3 linked regions of the Homo sapiens genome follow. The protein of the gene in region 2 purifies or fractionates together with the protein of the main gene of each other region. This does not show direct contact. Each region holds a gene or a part of one and is shown on either strand. Other genes may lie near its edges. The genes, in order: ANKHD1, EIF3M and USP34.

Region 1 (3,654 bases), on a different chromosome or scaffold from region 2:
AAATAGTTACTTGTTGAAAAACTCAACAATATAGATAGTAGGTATAAGGGGAAAAGTAAAAGTGCTTCTTCCCACCCCCATTAATTCTTCAAATTCTACCCTTCAAGGTAACCAATATTAAAATTTTTCATTCAGTAAATTTTCTAGGCCTATCTTTCTATGTATATATGTATATATGTTCATATACACATACTTTAAAGGCATATCAAATTTAAAAGTGTAGCTTTATATCACACTGAGGTTTTTTTCTTGAAGCAGGTGCTGTATTTACAATTATATAAAAGCACGCAGAAATTGTATTTAGCTCTGAAAATATAGCACAAGCTTTGTAGGGATTCCTTTTTCCCTGAAAATTACTTTTAACATCAAAAGCAAAAGTCATACAGAAATCCCATCCTGATTTTCTCCAGTAGGTAAGGAGTTGGGTCATATCCTTTAAGATTGTTTATGATCTATATATAATCTGTTTTTTAATTTTTAATTAAATTTTTTTTACCGTTATGTGTTTTGAGAGATGGGGGTCTCGCTTTTTTGCCCAGGCTGGCTGTTGCCCTGGCTACACAGTGCGGTGGCATGGTCATAACTCTATGTGGTCTCCCACTCCTGGGCTCAAGCAATCCTTCTGCTTCAGCCTCCCAAGTAGTCAGGACTACAGGGGACTATAGGTGTGCACCACAATACTTGGCTAGTATGATCTATAATCTAGAGCAGTTTCTCAAGAGCAACATATAGACATTTTGGGACAGAGAATTCTTTGTTGTGAGGGGCTCTCCTGTGCATTAGAAGCATCCCTGGCCTCTACCCACTAGATGCCAGTAGAACCCGATTATGATAGCCAAAAATTGTTCAGACGTTGCCAAATGTCTCCTAGGGACAAAATCACTCCTGGTTGAGAGCTACCGGTCTAGAGGCCACTCTTGTCAGGAATGGTAGTTTTGTTATACTCTGTATTCAAACTTAAGGTAAACAAGGTGAGTCACTGCTTTTAATAGCATTTCAGGACTTATGCTTATAACCTGAACAAGGGAGAAATAGAAGGTACTGAAAGGTTTAATATAAAACTAGCATGCACTGCTGTAAATTTTCTATGGTAAATGTATCATTTTGGGGAACTTTCACTTAAAATATATTATTTTTCAAAAAGTTCAGTTGTCCATGAAAATGAATTTTTAAAAAACTTTTATGGGGACTTCCAGTTTGTTCAAAGTAGAAATGCTTTATTCCATAAATTATCATTTGTAGTGATAACATAGGAAATATAACTTTGTATTCTAGTGGGCTAATTTTGGAGACTTTGGAAATGCTTATTGAATAAAAAGAATTATATGTTATTACTGTAACAATTTTTTTTTTTTTTTTTTGAGTCAGAGGAGCCTTGCTCTGTCACCCAGGCTGGAGTGCAGTGGCAGGATCTCGGCTCACTGCAGCCTCCACCTCCTGGGTTCAAGTGATTCTCCTGCCTCAGCCTCCTGAGTAGCTGGGACTACAGGCCCGTGCCACCACGCTCGGCTAATTTTTTGTATTTTTAGTAGAGACGGTGTTTCACTGTGTTACCCAGGATGGTCTCGGTCTCCTGACCTTGTGATCCACCCGCCTCAGCCTCCCAAAGTGCTGGGATTACAGGTGTGAGCCACCGCGCCCAGCCACAATTTTTTGTATGTTGCACAAATATCAACCTTTCACAAGCTTCATGATGTAAAGCCTTAAGACTTTACATATAAAATGATGCATTGATAAGTATATTTATGTGAATGGTGGGGTTGATGCAGAGTTGATTAGTATGGGTGGAGGAAAACTTTTTGGGAAACTTTAAGTATGAGAGGTTTTTGTTGTTATTAGTATATTTTCAATAGATAATTACATTCATATAGTTCATAAGTCAAAGTAATATAAGGGCAGATACAGTGAAGTCTCAATCTCACCCTGCTCCCACATATCTTGCTCTTTATACTTTTAATAAAAGTATTATATAGCCTTTCAGAATTTCTTTATGAAAATACAACTATGTGTATTTTCCCTACTGTTACACAGATGGTAAGATGCTATTTATGTGAAATTTTTAAATGGTAAATTTGAGAAGGATTTAGACTTTTTTAAAAAATTAAAGTGATAAATTATGTTATGAATGAAGGATGGAGGTGAGTTTAAGCACATTCCTTTCTGAGTCTATTTGTTAGTAGAGTGCTGATTGACTAGATGAATTCAAAATCAGTTCTGGCCTTCTGATTCAGTGATCACTAATATAAATAAAATATGTTACTTTAAAGAAAAGCAAAACAGTTTTAAACAGTTTTAGCCTTGAATTGGCAAGTAAACAAAATAAATGACAAGTTTACCAAATTTTTTTTTTTGGCCAAATTTACTTTCTCAGAACTAAAGTTGTAATAAATAAAATCAATTCTTTTTTTAAACCCACTATAAAGGAACTGTTTCAATGTATCTGTCTTCACAGACCTTATTGATCACATTTCCCTCTCCTATTGCTTGTCTATAGAGTCATAGAATCTTGGTGATAATCCTATCTCATCTCATTTTTAGGTAACTGCTACCATTTATTGAATGCTTATTATATACCAGTACCGTACTAGATACTTTCGTTATTTTATTTAATCGTTTCATCACCCCTTTGAGGTAGGTATTATCTACATTTTTATAGATGAATAAGTGTAGGCTCAGAGAGTTTTTAGAGTAATGAATCTAAAAAACAAAAAAATGGTTAAAATGTTATATGGCTAGTGACTGGTAAAGGTGGGATTTGAATGTGATACTGAATTTAGAGCCCATACTGTTATTTTGCTTCAAATTAAGAAATATGTAGTTTTTGGTTACCAAATGCTGTTTTTTAAATAAATCATTGTTTAGTTCCTATTGAAGTTTTCACAGATGTAAAGTAAAATGGAGAAAATAAGCAGGATGTAGTGAATTTCTAATGAAGCTATTTTTTCCCACTTTTTTCTATTTTGACAAATACTCTTCCTACTTTTACAAAATGAATTTTTAAAACTATCTGTACTTAACAGAATATCAACTGGAAACTTCATTTGGGACCCTGGATAAAAGCCTCAGAAGTCTGGGAACTGTTGAGCTAAATGACTTGCCCAGATCACACAGTTAATATGTAGCAGTCAAGACTGAAAAATAGGCCATCTGATTCCCATTCTAGTTATCCTACCTTCCAGATTCTCCTAACTTTCTTTTGATGCATTATATTAATGAGTTTAATTAGTTGCTTATAAATGCCTCTTTCAAACTATTATAGTTTATAATCCATAGTTGATCTTGTTGGAAAAGTTTTTTTTTTTTTTTGGCTGTTTTTTTTTTGGTTTGTTTGAGAACGGAGTCTCACTCTGTTGCCCAGGCTGGAGTGTAATGGTGCAATCTTGGCTCACTGCAACCTCTGCCTCCCGAGTTCAAGCAATTCTCCTGCCTCAGCCTCCTGAGTAGCTGGGATTATAGGCGGCCACCACCATACCCAGCTAATTTTTTTTTGTATTTTTAGTAGAGATGGGGTTTCACCATGTTGGCCAGGCTGGTCTCGAACTCCTGACCTCAGACTATCTGCCCACCTCAGCCTCCCAAAGTGCTGGGATTATAGGCTTGAGCCACTGTGCCTGGCCTTTTTTTAAATTTTTTTTTTTTTGAGACAGGGTCCCG
Region 2 (3,654 bases):
CATGTAAAATTACATTTCCATTTCTAATTCCATCTTTCAGATCTAACTGGCAATACTATATACTTTTGTAATTTGTTAATGGCGGGGGTATCCAAGCATAAAATAGTATAGTAGGGGGGAAAAAACTATTTGTTACCATTCTGTGGCTATGGCTTAAAAAAAGGGACCAAAAATACAAATCACCATATATCTAAGGAATAAAGTCTTCTACAAAGAAACAATATTATTTTAAGAATAATGTTTAGCTTAATAAAGTACCTTTAATCATCAAATTTTATCAGCTCTTAAAACATTTCTGAAAGTTACCATTATGATCAAAGTAATGGTAATTCTTTCAGTTGCTTTTCTGCTCACTCCTCCATCTCTAAATTTTAAAAACAAATGTACCAATGGAACTATTTCTTCAATCTTCTCCAAACACCCGATTGTTGATATAACTTTACCTCAAAGAATCATGGTACAGAAGAGCTGGAAGGGCCTAAAGTTCAGCAAGCTCTTAAATGAGACAAAAAGGTTCCAAGTCATTTTCTCTCTCTTTTTTTTTTGTTTTTTGAGATGGAGCCTCACTCTGTCATCCAGGCTGGAGTGCAGCAGTGTGATCTGAACTCACTGCAACCTCTGCCTCCCGGGTTCAAGTGGTTCTCTTGCCTAAGGCTCCTGAGTAGTTGGCACTACAGGTATGTGCCACCATGCCCACTAATTTTTGTATTTTTAGTAGAAATGGGGTTTTGCCATGTTGGCCAGGCTGGTCTTGAACTCCTGACCTCAAGTGATCCACCCACCTCATCCTCCCAAAGTGCTGGGATTACAAGTGCTAAGTTGTTTTCTTTTCTTTCTTTTTTTTTTTTTTTTTTTTGAGACAGACTCTTGCTCTGTTGCCGAGGCTGGAGTGCAGTGGCACAGTCTTGGCTCACTGCAACCTCCGCCTCCATCTCCCGGGTTCAAGCTATTCTCCTGCCTCAGCCTCTCAAGTAGCTGGGACTACGGGCACCCGCCACCGCGCCCGGCTAATTTTTTGTATTTTTAGTAGAGACAGGGTTTCACCATGTTAGTCAGCCAAGATGGTCTCGACCTCCTGACCTCGTGATCCGCCCGCCTCGGCCTCCAAAGTGCTGGGATTATACCTCTAAGCCACCGCGCTGGGCCCCGAGTTGTTTTCATACTCCCAGTTTCATTCTCTTTCTATCACAAATGCCACCTCCTACACCTTCTTGGTTTCTGATTCTCAATTCATTCTAAGTAATATTTTAAACTGTCTACCTATTTTTGTGCTGTTCTATCATACACGACTCCTTTTAGGATAATCTACAAATAAGGCCACAGCCATACTTGCTGGAACACATAGTACATAACTGTTAGTGTATCATGTTCCCACCTCTGTGCCTCAAAGAATAAACCCCAAAACTTACCAAGTGAATCAATGAAGTCTTTATTATTCTGATAAAACTTGACATATGATGCCAATTTAGCACTCACAAAAATGGTTAAAAGCTATACAGATAAGAGACAAAAAAGATACCATCAATACAGAATTCAGATTTATTGTAAGATATTCTAAGATATTGTAAATATTATTTTAAAGATACTGACTCCTACATTTTGTTCAAGGCAGAAATATCATTCTGTTTCATCAAATTACCAAACCATCTGCTTTCACATGGCTCACTTTTAAAATGAAATAATCAGTAAATACACTGAGCTCTAAATTATCCACACTGAAAGATGATGGCTAATGGCATAGTCCAGATGCACAACAGTCCAAAATATATTTATACTTGCATTTGAAAAATGTTCATGTGTTTTTAAATATCAGACTTATATTCCTAAGTGGGGCTAGGAACAATATATATGTAATAAAAAAGAAACTTGTATTATCTAAGTCTATAATGATGAGTAAGTGAGAAGATGAAAGAAAGGGAGGTAGCCGGGCACAGTGGCTCACGCCTGTAATCCCAGCACTCTGGGAGGCCGAAGTGGGCAGATCATTTGGGGTCAGGGGGGTCAGGAGTCGGAGACCAGACCAACATGGCAAAACTCTGTATCTACTAAAAATACAAAAATTAGCTGGGCCTGATGGCATGTGCCTGTAATCCCAGCTACTTCTCCTGGAAGCTGAGGCAGGAGAATTGCTTAAATCAGGGAGGCAGAGGTTGCAGTGAGCCAAGATCATGCCACCGCACTCCAGCCTGGTGACAGAGTGAGACTCAGTCTCAAAAAAAAAAAAGAAATTAAGAAAGGGAGGAAGAATAGGACTCTGCTCAGTGGATGAAGAAAAGCTGGTCCTAAATATGTCTGTTCCTGATATAAAAAGAATACATAGTTCTTAATCTTTCCATATCTTGCCATTAGTCACTTTTATTAATGCAAAGAAAAAGAGTCCTGCTTCAGTATGTAAAATTTAGGAAAGGAGAACATTTTTCACATTAAAGGATAAACTACTTACATCATGAATAAGCTCGCCTTCCAAAAACTTGACTGGTTTTAAAGTAAGAAGGTGGTCAAAAAGAAATGCATTTGGATCTTTCAATGCTCGTACAATACACCTTAATTAGAGAACAAAAATGTAAGCTCAGGGTTTTGAAATCCTGGCTTTTCATTGAGTTTTTGCAGATCATAAAATATACTTAATTCGGCAAAATATCTAACAGTCCAAAACATATAAACAACATTAAAAAAGCTACAGGATTGGGTTAAGACAGGCCAACACATTTATCAGGTTCATCTGTTTTAACAAAATGAAATATATTAATTGTAGATAAAAACATAGCTGGAGAGAAAGCACCAAGGTAATCAAATAGTAAGCAGCAGCAGAACCACATGCCAAGACACTAAGTGCTTCACTTGCCTTACATCTCATTTATTCCTCACAACAACCTAGGAGACAAACAGTATTACTCTGCCCCCTTTATCAACTATGAAGCAGTTCAGAAGTGCTCATTAAGAGGTGGAGTAAGAATGTGAATGGAGGCAGCCTGACCTCAAAGTCAAGGATCTTTACCACCAACTTCCCTTTTTACCAACTCCTATCATGTAGAGGTCCACACAAAGCAATGACCAAAAAAAGAAGTTTCATAATCCTTATTACATAGATTTAGAAAACTGATTCTATTCTTGTTACCAGTTAGATCTAAGACTGTTAAAAGCCCTTATACTCATTAGCAATGGGTTAATTTTTGGCAAGCCATCAACTTTCCACCTATAACCTTAAAATTAGGGTCAATTGGCCCAAGATTAGGTTCTAATTCTTGGGTTGGGATCATCATCCCCATACCAGCAATACCCCCCCCGCCAGGTAAACGCCATGCAGCTACTTCATATTCAATCCACAGTTCTTCCAATATCAAACCTTGAATTTTAGTATCTACATTAGAATCACCAGGAAATACACACTATCAAATGGCTCTGGATCACTGGTAGTTGCAAACATGATTTCAGTTACTTAATTTAATATTGTAGCTTACCTCTACATCGCTGTCAAACCCTCATCAGAGTAACGTTTAACATTACCTGTGGGCATCAACTCGAGCCTGGGAAGCATTGTCCTCTGTGTAACTTCCGAGCAATTCCACCATGACTTTTGAAGCAGCATCACTAAAAAGAAATATTGCTTTAGGAACTTGAAAGCATTACTGCTATTCATTCATTTAAAATATT
Region 3 (3,654 bases), on a different chromosome or scaffold from region 2:
CAACTTGGTAAACTATAACCCACCAAACGAATACACAGAGTAAAATCTACAACACATAAGTGGTTTAAAACAATGACGTACACCAGGCGTGGTGGCTCACGCCTGTAGTCCCAGGAGGCGGAGGTTGCAGTGAGCCCAAGATCGCACCACTGCACTCCAGCCTGGGCGAAAGAGCGAGACTCCGTCTCAAAAAAAAAAAAAAAAAAAAAAAGAGGTACTATGTAATTTTCACTCTGCTTTCAGAGAAATTTACCTTACGAGGTAAATAACCTCAGTTTACTAGTGAGTTTGCTATGGTGATGGCCTAAAGCATGTAATTTTAAGCCTCCAACTCCTCACCAAGATCTAGAAATGCTTTGGCCTTTGTAAACTGGTTCACAAAAGTAACTACAAAAGCAGTTATCAGACAAACTCAACAGAACAAGCAGAGGAACAGAAATTTAAAATTTATCCTAAACAGAATGTAATCCCACAAAATGATAACAGCAAAATTTACTCAATACATCCAAGCTTTTTAAATGTTTTTAAAATGAAGCATGAAAAGAAAATGGCAAGTCCAGTATTTTAGTATTGTTGGGATTGGTTATTCTAACACTAAAGCCAAATATGATTTTGAAATGTAGTTTCAACTTTTATGATATGTGTCAAGATTATATTTAAAAAGGGTGGGTGTGGTGGGGCAAGGGTACTTATGATAGGATCCTTAGTCTGGTTCCAGGAACAAACTTCAACGGGTCCTCAACCTGTAAGCACAATTCTGTGTCTGTATGCCTCTGCATGTTTCCACAGTGAAAGTTTACAGCTTCAGATTCTCAGGACTAGAGGTATAACTAATAATATTAATACTCTCACCAAAAACTGATGACAAAACGAACTGTTCATAATCTGTTACTTTTAACGATACTGCATTCTGCCAAACTTTAAACATTCCACATTAAGTCCTTACTCTTATCAAAAAGTCTGTGCATATCTAATACAAAGCTATACTACCCACACTTGTGTCTACCCTTTCATTTAAAACACAATTAACTGGCCAGGCATGGTAGCTCATGCCTGTAATTCCAGTACTTGGGGAGGCTGAGGCAGGAGAATGGCTTCAGACCAGGAGTTTGAGACCAGCCTGGGCAACAATGCAAGGCCCTGTCTCTATTAATAAACAAAAACACGGCTAGGCACGGTGGCTCACGCCTGTAATGCCAGCACTTTGGGAGGCCGAGGCAGGTGGATCACGAGGTCAAGAGATCGAGACCATCCTGGCCAACATGGTGAAACCCCATCTCTACTAAATATACAAAAAATTAGCCGGGCGTGGTAGCGGGCGCCTGTAGTTCCAGCTCCTCGGGAAGCTGAGTCAGGAGAATGGCGTGAACCCGGGAGGCGGAGCTTGCAGTGAGCAGAGATGGCGCCACTGCACTCCAGCCTGGGTGACAGAACAAGACTCTGTCTCAAAAAAAAATAAAATAAAATAAACAAAAACACAACAAAATTTGCTGGGAATGGTAGAGGGAGGGGAGGGATAGGGAGAGATTTGTTAAAGAATATAAAATTACAGTGAGATAGAAGGAATAAGTACTACTACAGAATGACTACGGTTAACAATAATATATGATACAAGCCGGGCATGGTGGCTCATGCCTATAATCCCAGCACTTTGGGAGGCCAAGGCGGGCAGATCACTTGAGTTCAAGAGTTCAAGACCAGCCTGGCCAACGTGGTGAAACCCCATCTCTACTAAAAATACAAAAATTAGCCGGGCTTGGTGGCACATGCCTGTAGTCCCAGCTACTTGGGAGGATGTGGCAGGAGGATTGCTTAAGCCCAGGAAGCGGAGGCTGTAGTGACCCAAGAGCATACCACTGCACTCCAGCCTGGGCAATGGGAAAGAAACCCTATCTCAAAAAAACAATAATATATGATACAGTTTCAAATAGCTAGGAGGATACTGAATGTTCCCAAAGCAAATGCTAAATGTTTGAGATGGATATACTAATTAACTTCAACTGATCACTATACGTTTTATGTATTGAAACATCACTATGTACACCATGAATATGTAAAATTATTATTTATCAACTAAAAATTTTTTAAACAAAATTTTTAGGCCAGGCATGCTGGCTCACTCCTGTAATTGCAGCACTTTGGGAGGTACAGGCAGGCAGATCCCCTGAGGTCAGGAGTTTGAGACAAGCCTGGCCAACATGGCAAAATCCCACCTCTACTAAAAATACAAAAATTAGCCAGGCAAGGAGGCGGGTGCCTGTAGTCTCAGTTACTCAGGAGGCTGAGGCAGAAGAATCACTTGAATCCGGGAGGTGGAGGTTGCAGCTAGCCGACACTGCATTCCAGCCTGGGTGAGAGTTAGACTCCGTGTCAAAAAAAAAAAAAAAAATTTATTACACTCGTTTGCCCAGGTAGCCTTCTCTAAGTGTGATCACTGTTTGTTAATTTCACAAGAAACAGTGTTTTTGGTTTGTTTTTTCAAGACAGCAGTCTTGGCCAGGCGCGGTGGCTCACGCCTGTAATCCTAGCATTTTGGGAGACGGAAGCGGGTAGATCACACGGTAAGGAGTTCAGACCAGCCTGGCCAATATGGTGAAACCCCGTTTCTACTAAAAATACAAAAATTAGCTGGGCATGGTGACGTGTGCCTGTAATCCCAGCCACTTGGGAGGCTGAGGCAGGAGAATTGCTGAACCCAGGGAGGCAGAGGTTGTAGTGAGCCGAAACCGTGCCACTGCACTCCAGCCTGGGTGACACAGCGAGATTCTGTCTCCAAATAAAAAATAAAAAAATAATAATAATAAAAAAAGCAGTCTTACTATGTTGCCCACGCTGGTCTCGAACTCCTGGCCTCAAACAATCCTCCTGCCTCAGCCTCCTGCCGAGGCGGGATTACAGGGGCGCACCACCACGTCTGACTGTTTTGTGAGGTTGCTTTAATACTAATTACGTATTTTTCAGCATGACCTGGAAACACACCACCCAAAAATATGCACAATTTTATTGCTTCTCTCAGCTGGCTAAACTGTTACAGGGTGTCGTATTTAAAGATGAATTCTGAGCACATTTTGGGAGGACTGTAACTTTGTTTTTTTTTTTTTTTTTTTTGAGATGGAGTCTTGTTCTGTGGCCGAGGCTGGAGTGCAGTGGCATGATCTCGGCTCACTGCAACCTCCGCCTACCAGGGTTCAAGCAATTCTCCTGCCTCAGCCTCCCAAGTAGCTGGGACTACAGATGCCTACACCACCACACCCGGCTAATTGGTGAATTTTTAGTAGAGATGGGGTTTCACCATATTGGCCAGGCTGGTCTCGAGCTCCTGACCTTGTGATCCGCCCACCTCGGCCTCCCAAAGTGTTGGGAATACAGGCGTGAGCTGTATTCAGAGTTGCCCGGCCAACTCTGAATTTCTAAATCAACGTTGAACTGATGCTCATCTTTGTACAAGGTACAGGCGGGAAAAGGGCAGACTTTATAGGTAATTACTGCAAATGAGATCACAAGAAACACATATAATCTACTTCAACAAGTTTTATCAAGCTCCAACCACTCATGTTCATTATCATGCTCCATCATAGCCACGGATAAGCAAAGAACTACAGAAAAAAAAACAACTTTTAATAGTGTGGTATAAACTACACATGTAATTGTTGA

What was found.
Region 1: the proteins of EIF3M (region 2) and ANKHD1 fractionate together in Homo sapiens (co-fractionation; one large-scale study listed by BioGRID). This does not show direct contact.
Region 3: the proteins of EIF3M (region 2) and USP34 purify together in Homo sapiens (affinity purification with mass spectrometry; 3 studies listed by BioGRID and IntAct, with this or other methods). This does not show direct contact.

Annotation. Positions count from the first base shown.
Region 1 is NC_000005.10:140,408,207-140,411,860, forward strand, and holds part of ANKHD1 (ankyrin repeat and KH domain-containing protein 1), read left to right. Parts: intron 1-3,654. UniProt on the Homo sapiens protein: May play a role as a scaffolding protein that may be associated with the abnormal phenotype of leukemia cells. Isoform 2 may possess an antiapoptotic effect and protect cells during normal cell survival through its regulation of caspases.
Region 2 is NC_000011.10:32,593,803-32,597,456, reverse strand, and holds part of EIF3M (eukaryotic translation initiation factor 3 subunit M), read right to left. Parts: intron 3,592-3,654; coding exon 3,508-3,591; intron 2,544-3,507; coding exon 2,444-2,543; intron 1,492-2,443; coding exon 1,410-1,491; intron 1-1,409. UniProt on the Homo sapiens protein: Component of the eukaryotic translation initiation factor 3 (eIF-3) complex, which is required for several steps in the initiation of protein synthesis.
Region 3 is NC_000002.12:61,464,530-61,468,183, forward strand, and holds part of USP34 (ubiquitin carboxyl-terminal hydrolase 34), read right to left. Parts: intron 1-3,654. UniProt on the Homo sapiens protein: Ubiquitin hydrolase that can remove conjugated ubiquitin from AXIN1 and AXIN2, thereby acting as a regulator of Wnt signaling pathway.